Homo sapiens: one gene and its partners. The protein of the gene in region 1 purifies or fractionates together with the protein of each later gene. This does not show direct contact. Each region holds a gene or a part of one and is shown on either strand. Other genes may lie near its edges.

Region 1 (3,656 bases):
TGCTGGTTCATGCCTCTGTGTTTTTGTTATTGATTATCATACTGCCTTTTCTTCTTGAAAGCCTTGTCTCTCTTCTTGGTCTTAGTAAATACCACTTTGCTTTAAAGACTTACACAATTATTATTGCAAAAAATTAACATCACCTACTCTTGCTATCCAAGTTATAGTTTTTGTCTGCCTGGTTCATTCTGAACTACAAAGTTTAAAATCAGAAAGGGGTTATAAATAGGATTGATCAACTAGAAATTTTTTCTGTTCTGGCTCTTTTGAGAGAAATACTATTCTGGATAGATTGCTGTCTATATTCAACAGAGTAAAAGAACCTTGCTATGTAACACTTAGGATTTCAGATCGAAGAAACAGCAAGAACCTTTTACCCCTAGTAATTGAGTCTCCTAACAGTTAGTGACCACTTCTGTTCTTTAAATTCATCATTTATCCTGCTTCCCTTTTCTTTTTTACTTTTTAATTATTTAGACTTTTTTATACCCTTTACTGAGACTCCCCAATTCTTACTATTTGTCACATTTTCTTTATAATTGTCTGTCTGCCTCTTCTCTGCCTCTCTCTCTCTGTCCCTTTATCTCCTCCCCCCATACATGTACATACACATTTTTTTGTGAACTATTTGAGAGTAAGTTGTACATCATGCCTCTTTCCCCCTAAATTCTTTAGTTTATATTTTATGTATTTCCTTAGAACAAGGACATCATCATGCATAATACTCTAGAGTTACAAAAGTCAGCATAGCATTGATACTATATCTGCAGGCTATACTGAGATTTCACCAATTATACCAGTGCCTTTATAGCAAATATTTTTTTCTAGTCCAGGATTATCTATTGCATTTTGTCAGATCTTCCTAATCTCCTTTAGTCAGGAACAGTTCTGCAGCCTTTCTTTATTTTTCAATATGCTGATATTTTTAAGTAATGCCAGTTATTTTAAAGAATGTTCCTCCACTGGGGTTAACCTGAATCACTTATTACTGTGATGATTGTCAAATGGTGATTTCTAACTCTACCGTCTCTTTTGCATTTATTAATTGGCATTCTATATAGAGAAGCTGTTTCTTCTCTCATATTTATTTTATATCAGGATGGATTCATGGATTCTTATTCAATAGTTTATAATCCATTACTGTTATTCATTCTGATGCTTAAGTTGTCCTAGATTTAGCCAGTGGGAGCCTCTTCAGCTGGATTCTGGGTCCTTTAAACATGGCTCCATTCTTTTCTGGGAACTATCTTATATTCTGGCATAACTTGATCTTCCAGGCTCATCTTTTGTTATTGATAAATCATCTGTCTAGTTTTTCTTAGTCTAGCAAGTTAATGTATATGCATTCTGTTAATATTCTTACTATTAGAGTGTTTGAGGATGAGTTAATTCATTTCCTAATAATCTGATGTTGTTTCCAGCCTCAAAATTCTAATTCCAATTCTAAAGGACATTCTTATTGACTCTTCTCCTTTTGTGTTTTACAGGTAACCATGGAGCTTATTACAGATAACAAAGATTTCACTGGTATCAATACTAAGTTAAGTGGCAACACCCATTATACCCCACTTTGTGCTCCTACAAGTCCAAATAAGGCACTACCAGAACTTAACCAAGATATGACCTGTACCAAAAATCCACAAAACTTAAACCAAATTCATGAGGAAACTGCAAAGAAAGCACAGAACTTGGTGCTCCCCAACCGAAAGTCACCAAGCCCTGTAGCACCACATCCTTCAACCTTCGTAGCTACGCCAGCCTCCCATAATTTAGTCAATCAGACAAATGGGACAACAAAAGAGAGTGCTTTGCTGTTGCATGTGCTGTTGATGGTGCCAGATGGGAAAGATTTTATTAGTGGAGAATCTGAGAAACAATCACCATGCAATGTTTATTTAAATTGTAAACTCTTCAGCACAGAGGAAGTCACCAGATCTGTCATCGCATGGGGCACAACACAACCGGTCTTTAACTTTTCTCAGGTAACTTTGTACATTCCATATCCATTAGAGGAATATAGGGGTGAGAGACAAATGCCTCCCAAATTATTATTTCGTCTTAAATCTAGAATGTTCAGACTAGAAGGAACCTTCGTAATTATCTGGTGTACAGATTCAGTCCCACTATTGGATGGGAAGAGGGAAAGGCATTGTCAACATTTTAAAACTGTTTGTCTTTATTTCTATTCTGTCTGAGTTCACATGGTTTCTCACTGTTTCTTTTGCCTGAGTTTTGGGATTCTATTCCTTTCTGCTTCCTCTAAGACTTTGATTAGTTAAACCTCCCCATCTTTCTCCAATCTCTCCTTCTTTATTACTTTATTTTATATATTTCTCCTCACATTTATTCTTCTGCCTACTTCAGTATTCATCTTAACTTGATTTTTCTGTGTAATGTGGTGCTTAAATTGTTTTCTTTCTTGGTTTTTGTAACTTTACTGTCTTAATTTCTTCCTCACTCAAAGCTGTTCTTTTTCAGTCATTGGGCCAGAAGGAAAACTAGGAAAAGGGTGGTAACCCCAGTACTTCTTCCTTTAACTGTTGGTGCTTCCACTCTTACTCTATTGCTGGCACTCTTCCAAATCAACCCACTTCTCCCCATGGTCATCACATCTATCAACACAGCTTCAGCACTCATTTTTATGAAGATAACTTCCATGTCTACATTTCTATATAAGCCAGACATTTCCTTTTAGTTTGAGATTTCTGTATCTAACTGCCTGCTGGTCATTATCACCTGGATATCTCAGAAGCAGTTTACACTTGGCACCTAACACATTGCCTGGCACATACTGGGTATTCAATAAAGATGTGTAAATGAAAGAATGAATTCAAACATGTTCAAATCTGAATTTATCACTTCTTCCAAATCTGTTCTTCCTCTTTTTGTCTGCCCTAATTCAAATTATAATTTACTCAGGCACCTAAGTAGAACCTGTTATTTGTCCTTGACTCTTTCTTATGTAATTACTTACCAAGTCTAATAGATACTACTAACTTAATTATCTGGAAGACATCCCTTTACCTTCACTGCACTGCCACTGCTTCCATTCAAACCTTCACCCTCCTTCCAAATAGCCTTCAGACTGGTATAGCTGTTTCCCAGCTCTCTTTATGTCCATTGCCTCCTTTATGCACCAATGAGAATGACCTTTCTAAAACACTAACCTGAACATTTTACTTTCCTGCTTAAAGCCTTTCCGTGATTCCCTATATCCTTCAAGATGGAATGTAAATCCTTGGCATCCAAGACCCTTTGAAAACTGACTGTATGTACTTCTCCAGCCTCAGCTCCTGCCACTCTTCCCCTTATACTAGATAGCCCAGCTGTGCTCAGCTACTTAGACTTTCCTGAATATTCTCTTCTCCTACTTCTGTATCTTCATATGTGCTCTTTCTTCTGCCTTGAATTTCCTTTAAGCCTTCTTGACACCACTTAAGCAGAGCTTTTTGTATCAGTTAACTCCTGCTCAGCCTTGAGATTTAAGGTTACTTTGTCCCAGAAGTAGTTGCCTGCAACTTCCTTATTTGGAGGTTAGGTTGCTGTTCTAGTTTTACTTTTTTTGGTTTCAAGGAACAGAAATGTGTTCAGGATATAAACACTAGGTTTGTATCCACCTTGTGTTTCTTAGGTGGATACAAAAGTAGCTCTGCTCT
Region 2 (3,656 bases), on another chromosome or scaffold:
CTGCAACTCCGCTTCCTGGGCTTAAGAGATCCTCCCACCTCAGCCTTCTGAGTAGCTAGGACTAAGGGCACCTGCCACTATGCCTGGCTAATTTCTAAAGTTTTTTTTATAGAGGCAGAGTCTCGCTGTTTTGCCCAAGCTGTTCTCAAATTTCTAGGCTCGTGTGATCCTCCTGCCTCAGCCTCCCAAAGTGCTGGGATTATAGGTGTGAGCCACCACACCTGGCTGATCTATCTGTCTTAAACTGGAGAATTGCATTTTTTTCTACCTCCTTTCTTTTTTTTAAAAAAACTGAATTTCCATCTGTTACCCCTCCCTTTCTGCTCCTCTTATTTCATGCCTTGGAAGTTATACTTTGCCTTCCTTTAATGAGTACCAAAGAAATTAAAAAATACATGTTTACTGTAAGTCCAGGCCTAAATGTTGCTACTACAGGGACCATCAAATGCTTTACTACCATCTATTGCCATCTGCAAATGTATGCCATTGTTGTTTAGTTTTGTAGTTCTTAATGTATTTTAATTAAACACCACAAATTATGCTTTTTGTTTGTTTTATTCAGTCAGTAGATGCTTAGAATACTTGCTTATTTTACCAATTCCTTTGCTTATTCCACTCCTTTGTTCTGGGATTATTTTTCTTTTTCCTAATATATTTTCATTAAAAGTTTATTTGGTGAGAATCTAAAAACTCTCAAATTCTGAAAGTTTTAAAAATTTGCCTTTGTTGTTGAAAATTAGTTTTGATGGGTGAGAGAATCTAGATCAGGTGTTAGCAAACCTTTTTTTGTAAAGGGCCAGATAGTAAATATTGTGGGCTTTGTGGGCCATAGAGTCTCTCTGACAACTACTCAGCAATGCTGTTGTAGGACAAAAGCAACCATAGACATTATGTAAACATGAGTGTGGGTATGTTCTCACAAATTTTGTTTATAGACACTGAAATTTGACTCAATTTTCATGTGTTAAAAATTATTATTTTTTGAATTTTTTTAACCATATAAAAATGTAAAAATCATTCGTAGCTTGTAGACCAAATAAACAGGATGGATTTGACCTGTGGGCCATAGTTTGCTGACCTCTGGTCTAAATTAACATTCATTTTACTTAGTACCTGACACTGGAGTAATTATTCTTATGATGTCTTATTGTGATATTGTCTTCCATTTTTAATTGTTGAAGAGCCAGCTGTCAGTCTTTTTTGTTTTTCTTTTTCTTCTTCTTTTTTTTTTGAAATGGAGTTTTGCTCTTATCGCCCAAGCTGGAGTGCAGTGGTGTGATCTTGGCCCACTGCAACCTCTGCCTTCTGGGTTCAAGCGATTTTCCTGCCTCAGCCTCCCAAGTAGCTGGGATTACAGGTGCCTGCCACCACACCCAGCTAATTTTTGTATTTTTAGTAGAGATGGGGCTTCACCATGTTGGCCAGGCTGGTGTTGAACTCCTAACCTCAGGTGATCCACCTGCCTTGGCCTCCCAAAGTGCTGCAATTACAGGCATGAGGCACGGCGTCTGGCCTTTCTTTCCTTTTTTTTTTTTTTTGAGACGTAGTCTTGCTCTGTTGCCCAGGCCGGGGGGCGATGGTACGATCTTGGCTCATTGCAACCTCTGCTTCCCAAGTTCAAGCCATTCTCCTGCCTCAGCCTCCCAAGTAGCTGGGACTATAGGCACGTGCCACCATGCCGAGCTAATTTTTGTATATTTAGTAGAGACGGGGTTTCACCATGTTGTCCAGGCTGGTCTTGAACTCCTGACCTCAAGTGATCCTCTCGCCTTGGCCTCTCAAATAACTGTCCTTTCTTTGTTGGTAATCTGGTGATATGTTTTCTTGTTTGGCTGCTTTTAAGAGCTGCTTCTTGTCTCTGGTGCAGTTCGCTATGATGTATCTAAGTATGTATTTATTTTCATTTAACCTGGTCAGGATTTGTTGAGTATCCAGAAACTAAGGATTGGTGTTTCTCATTACATCTGGAAAAATTTGAGCCATTATTTTTGCTTATATTGTGGTATGTCATAGGAAGTTGAGAAAAGAAAAATTCATTTGATGGTTTTCTATGAGGTTATAGTGGAAAATAACTATCTCCCTTTTAGAATTGAGTGCTAGACAGTTTCTGTGTAGATGATCTCATAAGCTTCCTTTTATCAAACAGCGATCACTTTTTTGGTTTGGCTGCTGAGAAGTATGGCATCAAGTATAATACTCATATGAGGTGTTTAAGAACTGAGTATATTTCTTATGCACATTTTACTATATACTATAATTATACATTAAAAATGCACATTGTAAATATTATAAATATGTGTTATACATTGTTAATAGTTTGGATAGCAAAAGTATGACTTGACATTTGTTTTTTAAACCATATTTAAAGTAACTCTATCACAATATGGATTTAATGGATTAATTGCATAATTGGTGAGCTACTGATTATTCTTGTTATTTGGATGCTTCTTTAAGTTAGCAAGTTTATATTGTGGTGCTTCAATATAGACTACTTATTTCATTTCAGAGAACTCAATTTCCTGTATCTACTGAGTCTCAAAAACCCCGGCAGAAAAAAGGTCTGTATGCAGTTTCATGGTATGTGTATGTTTGCACAGACAGATTTCTCTTTTATTTATTTATTTATTTTTTTTTTTGGAGGCAGAGTCTCACTGTCACCCAGGCTGGAGTGCAGTAGCACAATCTTGGCTCACTGCAACCTTTGCCTCTGGGGCTCAAGCAATTCTCCTGCCTCAGCCTCCCGAGTAGCTGGGATTACAGGTGCACGCCACCACACCTGGCTAACTTTTGTGTTTTAGTAGAGATGAGGTTTCACTGTGTTTGCCAGGCTGGTCTCGAACTCCTGACCTCAGGTGATCTGCCCACCTTGGCCTCCCAAAGTGTTGGGATTACAGGCGTGAGCCGCCACGCCTGGCCAGATTTCTCTCTCTTGTTGATTCTTTTATCTATTCTATATTATTTCAAAATGAGTGTTGGGAAAAGAAGTAATAGTCTAAATGTTCTGTCACATCTAGCTTTTATTTAATAGAGTTATTAGATATTAGGAGGTTGGTTTGACCTGGAAATTATTTAAATGGGGTTTGATTATTATGTAAGTGTGTACTAATTTTCTGCTTCTGGAAAAACCACTTTGTGAAGTTCCAGGTATCTTTTTGCTTTGTTGGTTTCTAGTTTAATTCTATTGTGGGTAGAGAACATTCTTTATATGGTTTGTTTTATGGCCCACAATGTGGCCTGTGTTGGTGCATGTCCCATGTACACTTGGAAATAATGTGTATTCTGCTCTTGTAGGATGTAGCATTCTGTAAATGTCAATTAGGTCAAGTTGGTTGATAGTGTTCTGTATATACTTACAATTACAGATATTCATATTCTTACTGATGTAGTTACTGATTGGAAGGGTGATAGAAGAGTGTTGAAGTGTGCAAATGTAATTGTGGATTTGTTTCTACTTTCAGTTCTATCAATTTTTGATTTGTGTATTTTGAAGATCTGTTGTTGGATGCATATACATTTAGGATTGTCTGATTTCTTGGTAAATTGACCCGTTTGTCTTTATATAATATTCCTCTTCAATTTCTGATAATATTCCTTGTTTGAAGTCTACTTTGCCTGATAATATTTTAGTTTTAGTTATTTATTTAGCTATTTTAGTT
Region 3 (3,656 bases), on another chromosome or scaffold:
CTTTTCCTTCCTTTTTTTAACCTGTCTCTGAATGTGAAATGGCCTACTTCTTGGGCAAGGCCAATATCTCTACCTCTACCCATTAAGCTTGGATCCTCCTGCTTCTTCAAAGTCTTTGCATTCTCATTCTCACATCTGTAGGTTGTTTTTTGTTTTTGTTTTTTTGTTGTTGTTGCTGTTTGTTTTGTTTGTTTGTTTTGAGACAGGATCTCACTCTGTCACCCAGGTTAGAGTGCAGTGGCATGATCTCGGCTTACTGCAGCCTTGACCTCCCACCTCAGCCTCCTGAGTAGCTGGGACCACAGGCATGCACCACCATGCCCAGCTAATTTTTTTATTTTCTGTAGACAGGGTTTCACCATGTTGGTCAAGCTGGTCTCAAACTCCTGAGCTCAAGCAATCCTCCTGCGTTGGCCTCCTAAAGTGCTGGGATTATAGGCGTGAGCCACCACACCTGGCCTGTAGGTTGTTTGTTTTGTGTGTGTGTGTGTGTGTGTGTGTGTGTGTGTGTTTTTGTTTTTTTTGCTTTGTGTTATTTGTCTGGGAGAGAGCTCATTATTCTTTCTCTGCCTCTGCCTCTTAAGGTTCTTTCCCTAAGCAGATTATTGTGGTTTTCTCCTAAGTTCTAAAAACTTAGCATGGTAAAGTCTCAACTAGAGAGCAAGAAGTAGAATACCTCTTGCTTCTCTTGTTATTTTAGGATAATAACAGTATTATTCTAAAAACATAATTTTACCTCAGAATTCAGCCTTTTAGAACCAAGAACTCTTCAGAAATCTAATTGGTTTTTAACATCCATTCTGTGGAGGTTTTTCACTGTACCGTCCAAGGAAGCTTATCTGTGTCTAAACCTGTAATAATTACTCCCATTTTGAAGTACCACAATGAACCTCACACATTAATCATAGCAGACAATTCAACATGCCCCTAGCATATTATATACTTTTATAATAGCAGACCTTTGCTCTTTTATCATTCTGTGTCTTTGAGTATTTTTTCTTAAGATTCAAAACTGTTTATCCTTTAAGGTCCAACTTAATAGCTACTTTTTTTTTTTTAAGAGAGTCTCACTGTGTTGCCCAAGCTGGTCTCAAACTCCTGGCTTCAAGCAATCCTCCTGCCTCAGCCTCCCCAGTAGCTGGGATTATAGGTGCAAGCTACTGCATCCTGCAGTAGCTACATTTTTGAAGCCTTCTTTGATTCTCCCTTGATTCTCTTCTCTGTTTCCATAGCATTTTTTCTTACTTGTCTGTGATATTTATTGTTATCTGCTTAAAGTATATAATAATTTTTTATTTTTTATTTTATTCTTTTTTTGAGACAGAGTCTTGCTTTGTTGCCATTCTGGAGTGCAGTGGCACGATCTTGGCTCACTGCAACCGCCACCTCCTGGGTTCAAGTGATTCTCCTGCCTCAACCTCCCGAGTAGTTGGGACTACAGGCATGTGCCACCACGCCCAGCTAATTTTTGTATTTTTAGTAGAGACTAGTTTCACCGTGTTGGCCAGGATGGTCTTGATCTCTTGACCTCGTGATCTGCCTGCCTCAGCCTCCCAAAGTACTGGTATTACAGGCATGAGCCACCAAGCCCGGCCTCTAATAATTTTTATACAAACTTATTTCTCTAAGTTAAACTTTATTTTCATGGACAGTCTAATTTTAAATATCTTTGTATGTAGCCTGCAAGGACCTAAAACATAGTTTTGCACATAATAGGTACTCAACAGATGTTTTTCGGATGCCTGAATAAAATATATGTGTATGGAGGTAGTGTAGAAGTATGTGCTTTGGAGGCAGATGTACTAATGTTTCAATCCTGGCTCTGTGACTTACCAGCTGTGTGACCCTAGCTGGTTGCTTAACTCTCTGAACTTCAGTTTTCTTTTCTGAGGAATGAAAATAATAGCACTTACTTTATTGAATTGTTATGATGATTAAAAGAAGATAACCATTTGAGTCATTCTATAGTACCTGGCACTATGTGTTTACTAAATATCATCTGTTAAGATTAAAGACTAATAGAAATGTCATGATTTCTAAAACATAATTGAGATCAAAGTAGTAAGGGTGTATTATTTATCTTTCTAGAAAAAAAAATTATCTTTTTTTTTATTTGTTTTGAGACAGGGTCTCACTCATCAGCCCAGGCTGGAGTGCAGTGTCTCAATCTCAGCTCACTGCAACCTCCTCCTCCCAGGCCCAAGTGATTCTAATGCCTTAGCCTCCTGAGTAGCTGGAATTTTAGGAGTGTGCTACCACGCCTGGCTAATTTTTGTATTTTCAGTAGAGACGGGTCTCACCATGTTGGCCAGGTTAGTCTCGAACTCCTGACCTCAAGTGATCTGCCCGCCTTGGCCTCCCAAAGTGCTGGGATTACAGGCGTGAGCCACCACAACGGACCAAAGCAATTATCATTTGCATATAGCTAGTTGGTATACATCATTTGTGTGTGTGTGAAAACCAAATGAAAAGGTAACATTAACTATATGAAAGATGATATATATTAATTAGGAAACTTGGTCATCGTAAAAAGGAACCAAATGCAAGCAGCTTAACCAAATAAAATAAATTTATCGGCTCACATAACTTAAAAGTCTAGCAGTAATCTGCCTCACGCACAACTGGATCAGTGGCTTAATTGATGTCATCAAGATTTTATCCCTTGTTCAGTTCTGCTTTTATCTTTTCTTGGCTTTACCATGCAGTGTTATGGCCACCAGCAGTTCCTAGAATCCAGTCTTACATATTTTCAGCTGCTATAGAGCTTCTCTTGCCCACTGGCTCCAATAAAAGTCCCAGGATTGAGTATCATTGTTAAGCCATGAACCACTGTGGTCAGGGGTATGGAATGTACTGCTCAATGCTTCCTCCTGAAGTCCCAGAAATAGACTGAGACCATTGCCACTGAAACTGAAGAGGGCAAGAGAAAGAGGAGTGGTACCCTAAAGAAAAATAACGATCCTGGCCGGGCGTGGTGGCTCACGCCTGTAATCTCAGTAGCTCATGCCTGTAATCCCAGCACTTTGGGAGGCCAAGGTGGGCGGATCACAAGGTCAGGAGATCGAGACCATCCTGGCCAACATGGTGAGACCCCCATCTCTACTCAAAATACGAAAACATTAGCTGGGTGTAGTGGCATGTGCCTGTAATCCCAGCTACTTGGGAGGCTGAGGCAGGAGAATCGCTTGAACCCAGAAAGTGGAGGTTGTAGTGAGTGGAGATCACGCCACTGCACTCCAGCCTGGCAACAGAATGAGACTCCGTCTCAAAAAAAAAAAAAAAAGAAAAATAATGGTCCTCTGACCATAAGCAGTGGCATTGGATGCTGAGCATGAAAAACAGCAGATGTCACTCTTTCATATTTGATATCAGATTTCTTTTAAGGATAAAGCATATAGTCACACTGTAATTTGTGTGATTACATGAAAGAAAAACATACTTATGTAAGTAAGCAATTCTAAGTGCATTTTATATATGTCTATATATGAGACTAGCTGTTGGAAATATTAGTGAAAAATGAAGATAAAAGTTGTTTAAATGAAGTTTTTATATAAATTGTCACATCTTTAGGAGGCATATATCTTGTTTAGTTTTACGAGTATATTCAGAAGCTGAATTAATATAACAGTAAAGGATTACATGTTTAAATTTGCTTT

The links.
Region 2: the proteins of C2CD3 (region 1) and BBS4 purify together in Homo sapiens (co-immunoprecipitation; one study listed by IntAct). This does not show direct contact.
Region 3: the proteins of C2CD3 (region 1) and BBS7 purify together in Homo sapiens (co-immunoprecipitation; one study listed by IntAct). This does not show direct contact.

The regions. Positions count from the first base shown.
Region 1 is NC_000011.10:74,101,457-74,105,112, reverse strand, and holds part of C2CD3 (C2 domain-containing protein 3), read left to right. Parts: intron 1-1,487; coding exon 1,488-1,982; intron 1,983-3,656. UniProt on the Homo sapiens protein: Component of the centrioles that acts as a positive regulator of centriole elongation.
Region 2 is NC_000015.10:72,692,671-72,696,326, forward strand, and holds part of BBS4 (BBSome complex member BBS4), read left to right. Parts: intron 1-2,506; coding exon 2,507-2,558; intron 2,559-3,656.
Region 3 is NC_000004.12:121,828,865-121,832,520, reverse strand, and holds part of BBS7 (BBSome complex member BBS7), read left to right. Parts: intron 1-3,656.